3 linked regions of the Homo sapiens genome follow. The protein of the gene in region 2 interacts with the protein of the main gene of each other region in a pairwise test. Each region holds a gene or a part of one and is shown on either strand. Other genes may lie near its edges. The genes, in order: DNM1L, CAP2 and GRXCR1.

Evidence for each region.
Region 1: the proteins of CAP2 (region 2) and DNM1L interact in a two-hybrid assay, tested with the Homo sapiens proteins (one study listed by BioGRID).
Region 3: the proteins of CAP2 (region 2) and GRXCR1 interact in binary tests that used the Homo sapiens proteins (3 or more experiments, as listed by UniProt).

What each region holds. Positions count from the first base shown.
Region 1 is NC_000012.12:32,738,216-32,741,971, forward strand, and holds part of DNM1L (dynamin-1-like protein), read left to right. Parts: intron 1-48; coding exon 49-81; intron 82-1,848; coding exon 1,849-2,025; intron 2,026-2,193; coding exon 2,194-2,303; intron 2,304-3,756. UniProt on the Homo sapiens protein: Functions in mitochondrial and peroxisomal division.
Region 2 is NC_000006.12:17,391,554-17,395,309, reverse strand, and holds the start of CAP2 (adenylyl cyclase-associated protein 2), read right to left. Parts: upstream 1,716-3,756; 5' UTR 1,564-1,715; intron 1-1,563. UniProt on the Homo sapiens protein: Involved in the regulation of actin polymerization.
Region 3 is NC_000004.12:42,895,589-42,899,344, reverse strand, and holds part of GRXCR1 (glutaredoxin domain-containing cysteine-rich protein 1), read right to left. Parts: intron 1-3,756. UniProt on the Homo sapiens protein: May play a role in actin filament architecture in developing stereocilia of sensory cells.

The sequences.
Region 1 (3,756 bases), on a different chromosome or scaffold from region 2:
TTTAAATTTTGCTTGTTAAATTGCATGTTTTAACATATCTTTTAACAGTTAATTCAGGACAGCAGAAGAGAAACTAAAAATGTGAGTCTCTTGCTTCAGAATGGAAATGTTGGTACCTTTGGTTCTCACTGAAACACTGTCTATACCACCATTAAAGAACCTGTTTGTGTAGTGGTATCTATCTCTTGTCTGTGTTATGTTCTTAATGTTCCTTTTATCTAACCTGTGGAAGATGGCATTAAACGTTGTTTTAATTAGTAACAATAATAGGCTTTCTCACTGTTTTGTTACCTTCAAGAATAGTTTTAAATTTAGTATTTTGGTAGGAAATTCAGAGATTTCCTAGATTTCAGAGATGGAATTGTATTTTTGGACATTTCCTTTCCTCTTTAAAGATCTTGAGATCTGTTCAGTACTAATAGATCTAATGCTTCTTTCTTATGCTTCCAGTTAGTTTGCACTTGTTACCCTATATATAGCTTCACATATGCTTCAGAAGCTTAAGCAAATTAAAAAAACAAATGGGGACTGTGAGAGTTTGAGACTGTTTTCAATTCTTGATAACCATTTTAGAGGAAAATTAAATAATGTATAAATTATTCAGACTCATCGCTATTTCAAGATTTTCTGCCATTTAGCTCCTTTCCTTAATTATCCAGATTTAAAGTTCTGAACTTCAAATAAAGGTTTATAAATGTCTTATCTTCTCTCAGCCCACTGTGCTCAGATATTAATCAAACCATCTAAATCACTGCACAAGTTTTATTTCATTCATGACGTCACACTGAATGTGCTCTCTCTCCTTAAGATTTCATTTGGTATGTCATTCATGTATAGTTAACAAACATTTAAAAATCTAATTACTCATTTTTAAGTTAATGTGTAACATAAATATACTACTTATATTTAAATGTAGTTCACCTTAACTGACATACTAAAGACAGATTTTAGCAAATATTTTGATTCAGAATGATACCTCAAACTACCATTTTTCTAACTGCCATAATCCTCTATTAAACTTATATAATCCATTTTTAGATTGTAAGATCTTAAAGAATACCTAAAAAAAACCCTCTTAAATGTTGATGAATTGTTTTTCCATTATAAAGTCATTTTTGACTTTTAGAAGTCAAGACTAATACATTTTCTAGAAAACAAGGTACAAAAGCACTTGTGATTAATGGTAGCACTAGATTTCTTTCAGCAAATCCTTAAGAGTACAGAGGTTGAGGGGACTTCTGTTGTTTGTCACATTCCGCATTTGAAACAACTCACAGTGACTGTCAGCCTAAGAATAGCAAATGTAGTCTTGCTTTTTGTTAAAGAGTTCTTACTTATACCTTATGGCATTTTTGTTGACTATTAGAAATGTAAATTGAGAAACATATAAACTCTTAAGTTCAGAGACGTAAGTTCATGGAACTTTTAGAGTTTAACAGTGTTAATGATTACTTAAGAAATTAAACTGAATAGCAGTTCTTTGTGCTTTTAACGAGTAGTTTTGTTTTTAAGGGCAGCATATACTTTTCCTACAATTTAGTGTTTGAAGGGTGGGAGAAGAGGAACGATTTTGAAAAGTTAGCGAATGATAAAGAAAAAAGGAATTAAATAGAACATAAGTTGGTTGATGCCTTGCAAACAACTTAGAGCAGAACTTCTTTATTATTTAGATAGGTCAGGGTTCCAGTTATACATGCTACCTAGTGTCTCCTTCTGACCTCATTATCTGTCTGAATAAACTTCAGATGGGTACTGGATGTATATTGACTACTGTCAAATAAAATGAACTTTGTTTTAGTTAAGGTCAGATATGATGTGGTTGGTATGTTTTGGAACATGTTTTTTCAGGTTGCATCTGGAGGTGGTGGGGTTGGAGATGGTGTTCAAGAACCAACCACAGGCAACTGGAGAGGAATGCTGAAAACTTCAAAAGCTGAAGAGTTATTAGCAGAAGAAAAATCAAAACCCATTCCAATTATGCCAGCCAGTCCACAAAAAGGTCATGCCGTGAACCTGCTAGATGTGGTAAGCCATGACAATTTGGTTTAGGTAATAAGGTAGGTGACCAAGTTAGTAGGAAAACGATTAGACAGAAAGAACTAAAAGTCTCAAAAACTTACATAACTTTCAGATGTTAAAGCTGCCATTTTAGTGTCACAAAAGTAATATTTTTTCCCCCTCATCCCTATTTAGCCAGTTCCTGTTGCACGAAAACTATCTGCTCGGGAACAGCGAGATTGTGAGGTTATTGAACGACTCATTAAATCATATTTTCTCATTGTCAGAAAGAATATTCAAGACAGGTTAGTATTACTTAATATAAATGACGGACTTTAATACTTCTGGATGATTCTGTGATCTGTTTTGAAAAATACATGTATTTTTACAATTTTAGGTTTTTATTCTAAATCATCAAGTGGATTTTCTGATAGTCCTTGGGTAACTTGTAGCAAGACCCATTTTGTTAACATAGAATGACTAGGACCTCATGTATCAGCTAGAAAAAGCTATTAAAAATGAGAGATTCTTTTGTTCTATCTGGCTGCCACATTTTGAGTCATTTAAGAAAATCTTTTTCCTAAATTTTAATTTAGTAGTTTCATTAATTATTTTGGCTAGTAACACTGACTTGCCTTTTTAATTTAACTTGGTTTTCCAAAGTATCAAAACGAATGTCTTTTACTAGGAAATATGTGTATTTTTTCTCGTTCAGAATGTTTTTTCATGTGTCTAGTCCCTACTGCATCTTCTCCTTCATGTTGCCTGGTATGTCATTTCATGCAGTAATAGGGAGAATATACATTTAGTTGTGTGAAGTGATCTATTAGAAAATATTCTGCATCCAGTTTTTGGTAATCTGTCAGCAGCTAAGATGAATTTTACTGCACAGAGTAATAAACAGTCTAATACTTCATATTGAAATAAATGATTTTTGTCTGTAGAACCATTTATCTTTTTTGCTTGTAGACTTTTTAAACCCGTAGCTTGTAGTAGAAATAACAGTTCCTAGTGTTTTACACTGTGGGCCTGAAGAAAAAAATTCCATTTGTTTCCTTCCTTGCCCCCATCCTCTGCAGAAGGTGTTTTTGAGATGGAGTCTCGCTTTGTCGCCCAGGCTGGGGTGCAGTGGCGCAGTCTTGGCCCACTTCAACCTCTGCCTTCTGGGTTCAAGCGATTCTCCTGCCTCAGCCTCCTGAGTAGCTGGGATAACAGGTGTGCACCACCATGCCCAGCTAATTTTTGTATTTTTAGTAGAGACGGGTTTCACCATGTTGGCCAGGCTGGTCTCGAACTCCTGACGTCAGGTGATCTACCTGTCTTGGCCTCCCAAAGTGCTGGGATTATAGGCGTGAGCCACTGCACCCGGCTCACTTAATGTTTTTAAGCCTCATCCATACTGTAGTATGAATCAGTATAGTCACGCACCACATAACATTTTAGTCAACAGACCACGTATTTGAATGTGTTCCCGTTAGATTATGATACCATGTTTTTGCTGTACATTTCCTATGTTTAGATACACAAATACTATTGTGTTACAGTTCCCTATTCAGTACAGTAACATGCTGTACATGTTTGCAGCCTGGAGCAATAGGCTATCCCATATAGCTTAGGCGTGTCATAGGCTATACCATCTACGTTTGTGTAAGTACACTCTGTGCTGTGCATGTAATGAAATCACCTAATAATGCATTTCTCAAAGCATATCCGTGTCATTAAGTGACATATCTTTTGTGTGAATAATACTAGATTATG
Region 2 (3,756 bases):
CTGCTTTCAAACTATAACTGTGGAACTGAGTAGTTGCTAAGGAGACCATATGGCCTGCAAAACCTACATGTTTACTATCTAGCTCTTAACTCAAAGGTTTACCAAACCCTACCCTGTATCAACAAATTAAATTACTTCTCACATTAACGATGGGGAACAAAAACTTACTTCCTACTAGCAAAGACCACCTTGATAATCACCTTCCTGATTTCTCATAGTCAACTTCTTTTTCTCTTTATCCTTAAGAAGTATTTATATGACACTTTGATTGTAATGTTATTAAGAATTTTTTAAATTTCGGGATTCATGGAGAAGTCGCCTTTCCTTGCAAAATATGCAGTATATTCAAGAAGTCATGCTCCATCTACACTTAAGGTACTGAATTAACTATTTCACACACTTTTATTGTCTATCCATTACATGCTGTGAGCCAAATACTGTTTGGTGCCGTAGGAACTACCAAACAACCCATCCTTGCTTTCAAGAGGCTTGCAGTCTAATTAGACTCTAGTAACTATAAATCCAATTCTCTAAAGTTCACTCTACCGTTGTAATTTTACACTAAGTGGGCTTAGATAGTTTACCAAGAATTCTAAGGAACATAGCTTCAATGAAATCTACAGAAGCAGTAAGGAAATAGGAGTACTCAGTAAACTACAGTGCTCAAGTCCCAGAAGCTTCTGCATTTCCATAACTATAAAACCAAAGGTCCTAGATGTTTTTACCAAGTGTTCATCTCCACTCTGGCTGTTTGGACCTAGTCCCGGTTCAACTTCCTAAATGCAGTCACCCATACATACTCATTTTTAAGAATGCATCCATTCAAATATTGCTACAACTTGCAGCGAACACCACTCTGATGAGAATAAAGAAAAGGCCATCTGCAGGTTGATTTTTGGCCCTAAAAGTGATGATACGGCGGCTACTTCCACGAACACCCCTCTACCCAAAGCAGTCAGAGAGCCAGCGGCGGGTGCCGTTTTTCCGAGCCGTTCCCCCAGTCTCAGTTGCCTCTGCATTTTTTAGAAGTGACTCATCGCCTCAAGTCAGGTTCTGCAGAGGGGAAGCCAGGTCTGTTTCTTTCCAGCACTTTCTGATCGAGGTGGCTCTGGTCAGAGCCGGCGCAATGACTCCCACCCCCACCCCCCTGGAAGACTCACAGCCCGGTGGACGAGACCCCCCAAAGTTAGAGCGGCCGGGCGGGCGGCGGCGCTGGGGTGGGGAGGCCGCGGCCGCCCGCCAACCCCGGGCAGCTCCTGCCCGCACCCCGCCTTCCGAGCGGCCAGGACGCCGGAGCTGGGGAGGCGGGGGCAGGGCGCGCCGCTCCGCTGACCCAGATGGGAGTCCGCCCGCGCCCGCGCCCCGCGCCCGGGTCGCCGCGCCCCGGCCCCCGCGCCCGCGCCGCCTTTATTCCCCTCGCGCTGCTGCCACAGCCGCAGCGTCCCGGCCGCTTCCCTACCCCACCCATCGGGCTCAACTTGCCAGCGCCCGCCGCCAGGCGCCCCCCGCACCTGCACCCCGACCCCTCCCCGCCTCGCCGGGCCCCGACCGCTGCAGGATTACCTGCTTCGCTGCCCTGGGGTCCCGTCCTCGGCAATGCAAATCCGTGGTCGGCCACTCGTACCCTCCTCCCGCGGCCCTCCCCTTCTCCTCCCCTCTCCCTCCTCCCAGCTGAATAGGAGCCGGTGTCAGTCACGCTGCTCCAGGGGAGAGTCGCCGGCAGCTTCCGGAGCTCCAAATACAGACGAGCTGAGGGGGGAGAGGGAGAGCAAAGCCACGCGGGTGGGGAGTGGAAATAAAGGGGAGCAGAGAGGAGAAGGGGGTGGAGGAAAGGAGGGGCAGATGGGCCGTGGGAGAAAAGACAGGGAGATGGGGAAGGCAGAGCCAGGGAACGCCAGCCTGCCTGCCAAGCGCCAGGCTATGCGAGAAATGGATTCAGTGCATGAGGCAGTATTGCAAAGAAGTCTGGAAAGATCCGGAGGCTCCTGGCTGAAGGAGGCACAGATAGGTTGGATACCCGAAGATCTGTGCAGAGAAATGGGTAATGGATCCTTAGGAATCAAGAGACGGCATGTGTGTCCCCAGACCCAATATGAGGATAAAGGCTCTGGGAGGAGAAGGAGCTAGACAGCTAATGCTTTAGCGAGACATCAAGACTGAGTGCACTCATAGTGCGTGTGATGACATTTTTAAAAAGTATTTTATAAACAGCAACTTTTTAAATGTCCTGATTATTTAAAAATTAAAGTAACCAAACCCACTTGGCTTCTTAAGATGTGCAGCATATTTGTGGCCACTTCCCCTTTATATATTGATTATAATTGCAAAATTGGAGGCTTTTCTCTTAACGTCATTAGAAGGAAAGCATTGATTTTCAATTTTCATCAAAGTTTATTTCAGTCTAAAAAAGTGACTTGAAGCTCTTTATTGAATGAATGCCAGGAAAATAATTGCAGAAAAGAGAAAAAAAGAGGGGAAATGTAACTGATATCTTCTGAAAGTAAAATCTCCAAACAATAAATATGAGATGAATTTCTTAAAGGCCAATATTCTCTGTCGATGTTAAAATTGCACATAAGTTGGTTCTGTACATTATAAGGCTTATTCTGACCCCATAGGTCAGCACTTATACAAAGGTCATTCCAATTACACATTGCTCTCTGCTGACAGTAATGAGGTGCAGTGAGTCTTTGCTTCCCTTTGTCTGGAAAGAAGGGAAACAAAATGACATAAACATTGATCAATGAGTGCGTACATTGCATAAAGCCAGAGCCAGCACCCTCCCTATCCTGTGGATACCTTGCATATGGCGGGCATTCAATATGTTTGTATTAAATAATGAATGAATGGATGGATGGATGAAGTATGTATGCATTTAGAACATTTGTGTTCCAGAAATGCAGAAAAAATATATATCCATAAGAATCAATGTGTGCAGGATCACAGGGAAGTTCCAAGCATCCATTCATATGACTTTTTTTTAGCACTAACTTCAACAAACATTAGCACAGTATTTCCTTAGCTACATCTGTTTTTTATTGGAGTATAAAGTATTATGGAGTCTAAGAGTGGATGAGCCACAAATCCTGTCTTTAGGTTGATAATATAGTAGGAAGATGTGAAGAGTATAAAAATAACCACAGTTCTAGGAATGTCGTAAAAAACATTCTAAAAGAAGTATGAACAAATTTCCATGGATGTTCAGAAGAAAGGAAGGTTGCTTCTAGACTGGGGATTAGAGAACACTTTCTGATGGACATGAAAGTTGAGTCTTCATGCGGAAATGAGACATTAAGAGTGGATTGTGGAGGAAAAACCCTCAAGATGATGGGCAGGGACAAAAGTGGAGAGGTAATAAAGGATGGCATGTATGAAGGACAGTCTGTGAGTTTAGCTGGATTGGAGGGCTGTGGAAGCCAGGTATGGAAGGAAGGTTAGGCCCTGGCTGGTAGAGGCCTTCAATCTCAGCCTAAAATGTTTGAAGCCTAAGTAGTAGGCACTGGGGGACTATTGACCATTTTTGAGCATAATCATGATAGCAATGGTTAGTTTGGTGGTGGTATATAGGACTGGAAAGAGATAGGAGGCAGGGAAATCCACTAAGAAATAACTAGCTAGTCTGGAGGGGAAAGTAACGAGCCTCAACTTGAAGCCTGAACTCTTCCCTTAACTAGCCCTGTCATAGCATCTGTCTGCTATATGATGTCTCCCCAAAAGGGCTAGCCCCCAGTGAACACTTCTTCCTCACAACTCTTT
Region 3 (3,756 bases), on a different chromosome or scaffold from region 2:
TAGTCCTCACATTATCTAACATATTTTTTGTCTCACGGTAGATATGCAGTAAATAGTTATTAATGAATGATTGAAAATGATCAAAAGAAAGAATGGAATGAAGCAAGCCAGCAACACTTCGCCATGCAAACTCTAGTCCTGTCCGTTATGGGAAATCTCCAAACCCAAAAGAGATGGAGAAGAGGAAAATAACCACTAAGAGGGTTAATTCATTAACTCAAGGAAGAAAATTTATTGAGGTCCTACTCAGTATGTGCGCTAATACCATAAGCAAGAGCCAAGGATGGTATGTGCAAGGTGGTCACAGGACTCTAAGTTCTATCAGTTTACAATTCTTTAATTGTGCATAAATATCAGTAGTACCAACTCATCTTTGCTGCTTTTTCTTTCCTGCTTTTTACATAAGTCACTTAATCTCTTAGTGTAGTTTCTCGCATCATTTGGAATTGTATCAAAAATCCTAGAGCTTCTTTACCTACCTCTTAATATCTAAAAAGATAATATTTCCATTAATACATGATAGTCTTGACAGAACACTACATAAGAATTTCTCAGGATACATAACATTTTAAATCCTATAAATTAATGTTTCTGTCAGAGAAGAAGCTCAGATCATAATTAATTGATAATTAATTGATTAATAGTAATATACCTCACAGGGTTGTTGTAAGGAATAAATATCAATGCACATAAATAATGTCAACAGTGTCTAATATTCAATAAGTACTTAATGCTAATTATTTTCCCAGAGTGGTCCAAATGAACCACTGGGACTAAGGAGTCATCAAGAATATCACCTTGTTTTTACTGAACTATTATTCTATTATCGGAGTTTGATTCAGTGAACCAGAGATGCATAATAAATACTGCTGGAAAGGTGTGTTAACACTACCCATCCTGAGATAGTGAACCACTGTAAGCACCAGTATACTTGAGGTAAACAAGTCATCCTCTTTCAGTGTCAATCCTTGCAACCTCATGACACTTTAATCAAACGATGTTATAGAAATGATATAAACCTTTTAAAAATACAATTCAAAGCTGAATTGAAGCTATTTAACTCTGCAGAAAAAAAAACCTTTCTAGATGAAGATCAAATGTTCAATAAATGATAAATTGTAAAACCTGCTAACTAAATGTTGAAATTTCAAAAGGCCAGATTATATAATAACATGATATGTTTAGTCTTATTACATGATACATTTAGTCTTCATGTTTGTTATCATGACATTTCAAAACATAAAGTTGGGAGTTTATGCATATAGTACAACACTTTTGAAAACTGTGAAAGCCAAAACAGCAAAGGGCAGAGTTCTTGCATTACTAGCTTTGGGCCAGAGACTGGATTTCTCTCACACTTAGTTATCTAAAAACAGACATAATAAGAATAATAATAATAATAATAATAATAATAATAATAATAGTAATAACTTTTCTGTTCACTTTATAAACTTTTGGGCACAATTAATTAAAATAATATATGTGAAATCCCTGTGTAAAATGCAAAATAACATTTTATTCCTCATTACTGAAAAATTTTAGAAAAATTATTTACTTTCTTTAAAAATTAGCCATTGTTACTTCATGCTAAAGAAATTACAAAATCACCACACAGCTCATACCTCTCAGTAGCCAGTTGACATCATTAAATTTGAGGTATACTTTGTTCTTAGCAGCAAAATATTTCCAAAATCTCTCAGAATGAGTCCTTAGGTTTTTCCACAAACATACTGGTTTTTCCACAAACATACTACTTTTATTTCATTTGTCTTGAAATATTAGAATGCTTATAAATACAATCACACTAACCGGAAATATCCATGTACATACATAGACGGAGGTTATATGTTTAATTTGAGTTCCTAGAAAGGAAATGCCAAATTATAGTATGTGTTGTAATTATTTTCCTTCTTTGCACCTATTTATCTCTAATACAGTAATTTTAAATTTGGAGAAGGAAAGGAAATTAAAATTATGGAAATGACAGTACAATATTCTAACAGTTTATTCACACAGTTTGAGGATAAGGTCAAGAAAAAAATCGCTGTCTGAAATGTAATCTCATAAGAATAAATTATCAAAAATAAGCAGCCTTAATTATCTGCATCATTGACCCACTCTAAGAGAATTTGGAAATATTTTGCTGCTAACAGCAAAGTATATCTCAAATCCAATCATGTCAACTGTGTACTGACAGGTATGAGCTATATGTTGATTTTATAATTTGCTTAGCATGAAGAAACAATGGCTAATTTTTAAAGAAAGTAAATATATTTTTAAAATTTTCCAGTAATGAGGAATAAACTTATGTATCTAGATAGAGATATTCTAAGAGCAGAATTTCTTAAAGAGTATTAAAAAGAGACCAACTACATCAGAGTGTCCTGGTAAGATTTCTGGACCTGTTCTCAAATTAACTGATAAATTTGAATATTCATGGGAAACATGGCTGTTGGGATAACCTTTATTCATCTTTGGCTCAGAAAAATTTTTCTGATAATCTAACCTGATCAAAAGAATGAATAACAAGTCATTGCATATCTCATTCATTTTCTTTATTAAATATTGAAGAGATAAGGAACATTAATATTTTTATTTACCCTTGGGAACTGGATGAATTTCTCTTTGATACTCTAGGTCAATGATTCTCAAGCCTTAGTGCATGTAAGAATAACCTAAAGAACTTCTAGTAAACGCCTATTTCCAGGCCACAGTCATGGCTAGATTCTAGGTTTTCAGATTTCCAAATTGGCCTCTCTCGAGCTCTGTATTCTTGTTATCTCTGGGAGAGTTGGCAAATTCAACCACCTGGAGCTGAAGCGCCATAATCTAGAACAGCTAGAGACATTTTGCTTCACCATTAACCACTCTCTACAACGCCCACCTGAGCAGCCAGGTGGCCTTCTGCTTTTTGCCTCCTGGTTCATCACTACCTTTAACAACCTTGATTAATTTTGCACATCATCAAATACCCAGGATTATATAAGGTAAACTAATTGACCAATAAAATGGAAATTCATTCTGATATTCCTTTAATAGACAACTTTCTAAGTAAGTGCTGCTACAAAGTAAAAATATTTTAAGGCAAAAATTGCAATGACTTTTTTCTGTGCAGTTGAAATTTTTGCAGGACATATACCAATGTTTTATGAGACAGGGATAAAAGAGTGGGAAACTAATACAGAAGAAGCAAGTGATTGACAGGGTCTTTGAAATATTTTATTTATATTTAGGGTTTTCTTTCACGTTTAAGGTTAAGTGCTTTAAGGTTTTAAAACTTAAAAAGAAAAGCCTCACTGTTTCTTCAATCACAGTTCCTTGCTTCAATAAGATTGGCTGTGCATTGAAACCTTAATCAAATATCCAAGATACCGACTGCTCACTTTTTCCTCCCTGAGGGAGATTACTAAATTACATCCAGTCAAGTTTACCGCTTACTTTGCAAGGGATATGGAAAATATATAGGGGGAAAAGTCATATCTGGTAAAGGGTATAGGAATAACTGAATAATAACTTCTGCTTCTAGCCCCTGGGGCTTCTCTGTGGGATGCCTATGGGAATATACACTATCATCCTAAGACATATGCCTAAGATGTACATTACCCCAAATGACATACACATACCTTAAAAAGTGTGGCAAGCATCCAAATCAGATCTCTACATAATGTTGAGTAGGGTGTATTGCACAACTTTAAGGGGTACCATTCATGCAGACAATGGGGAATGGAGCTCCTTGGGCAATAATGCAACTAGCAG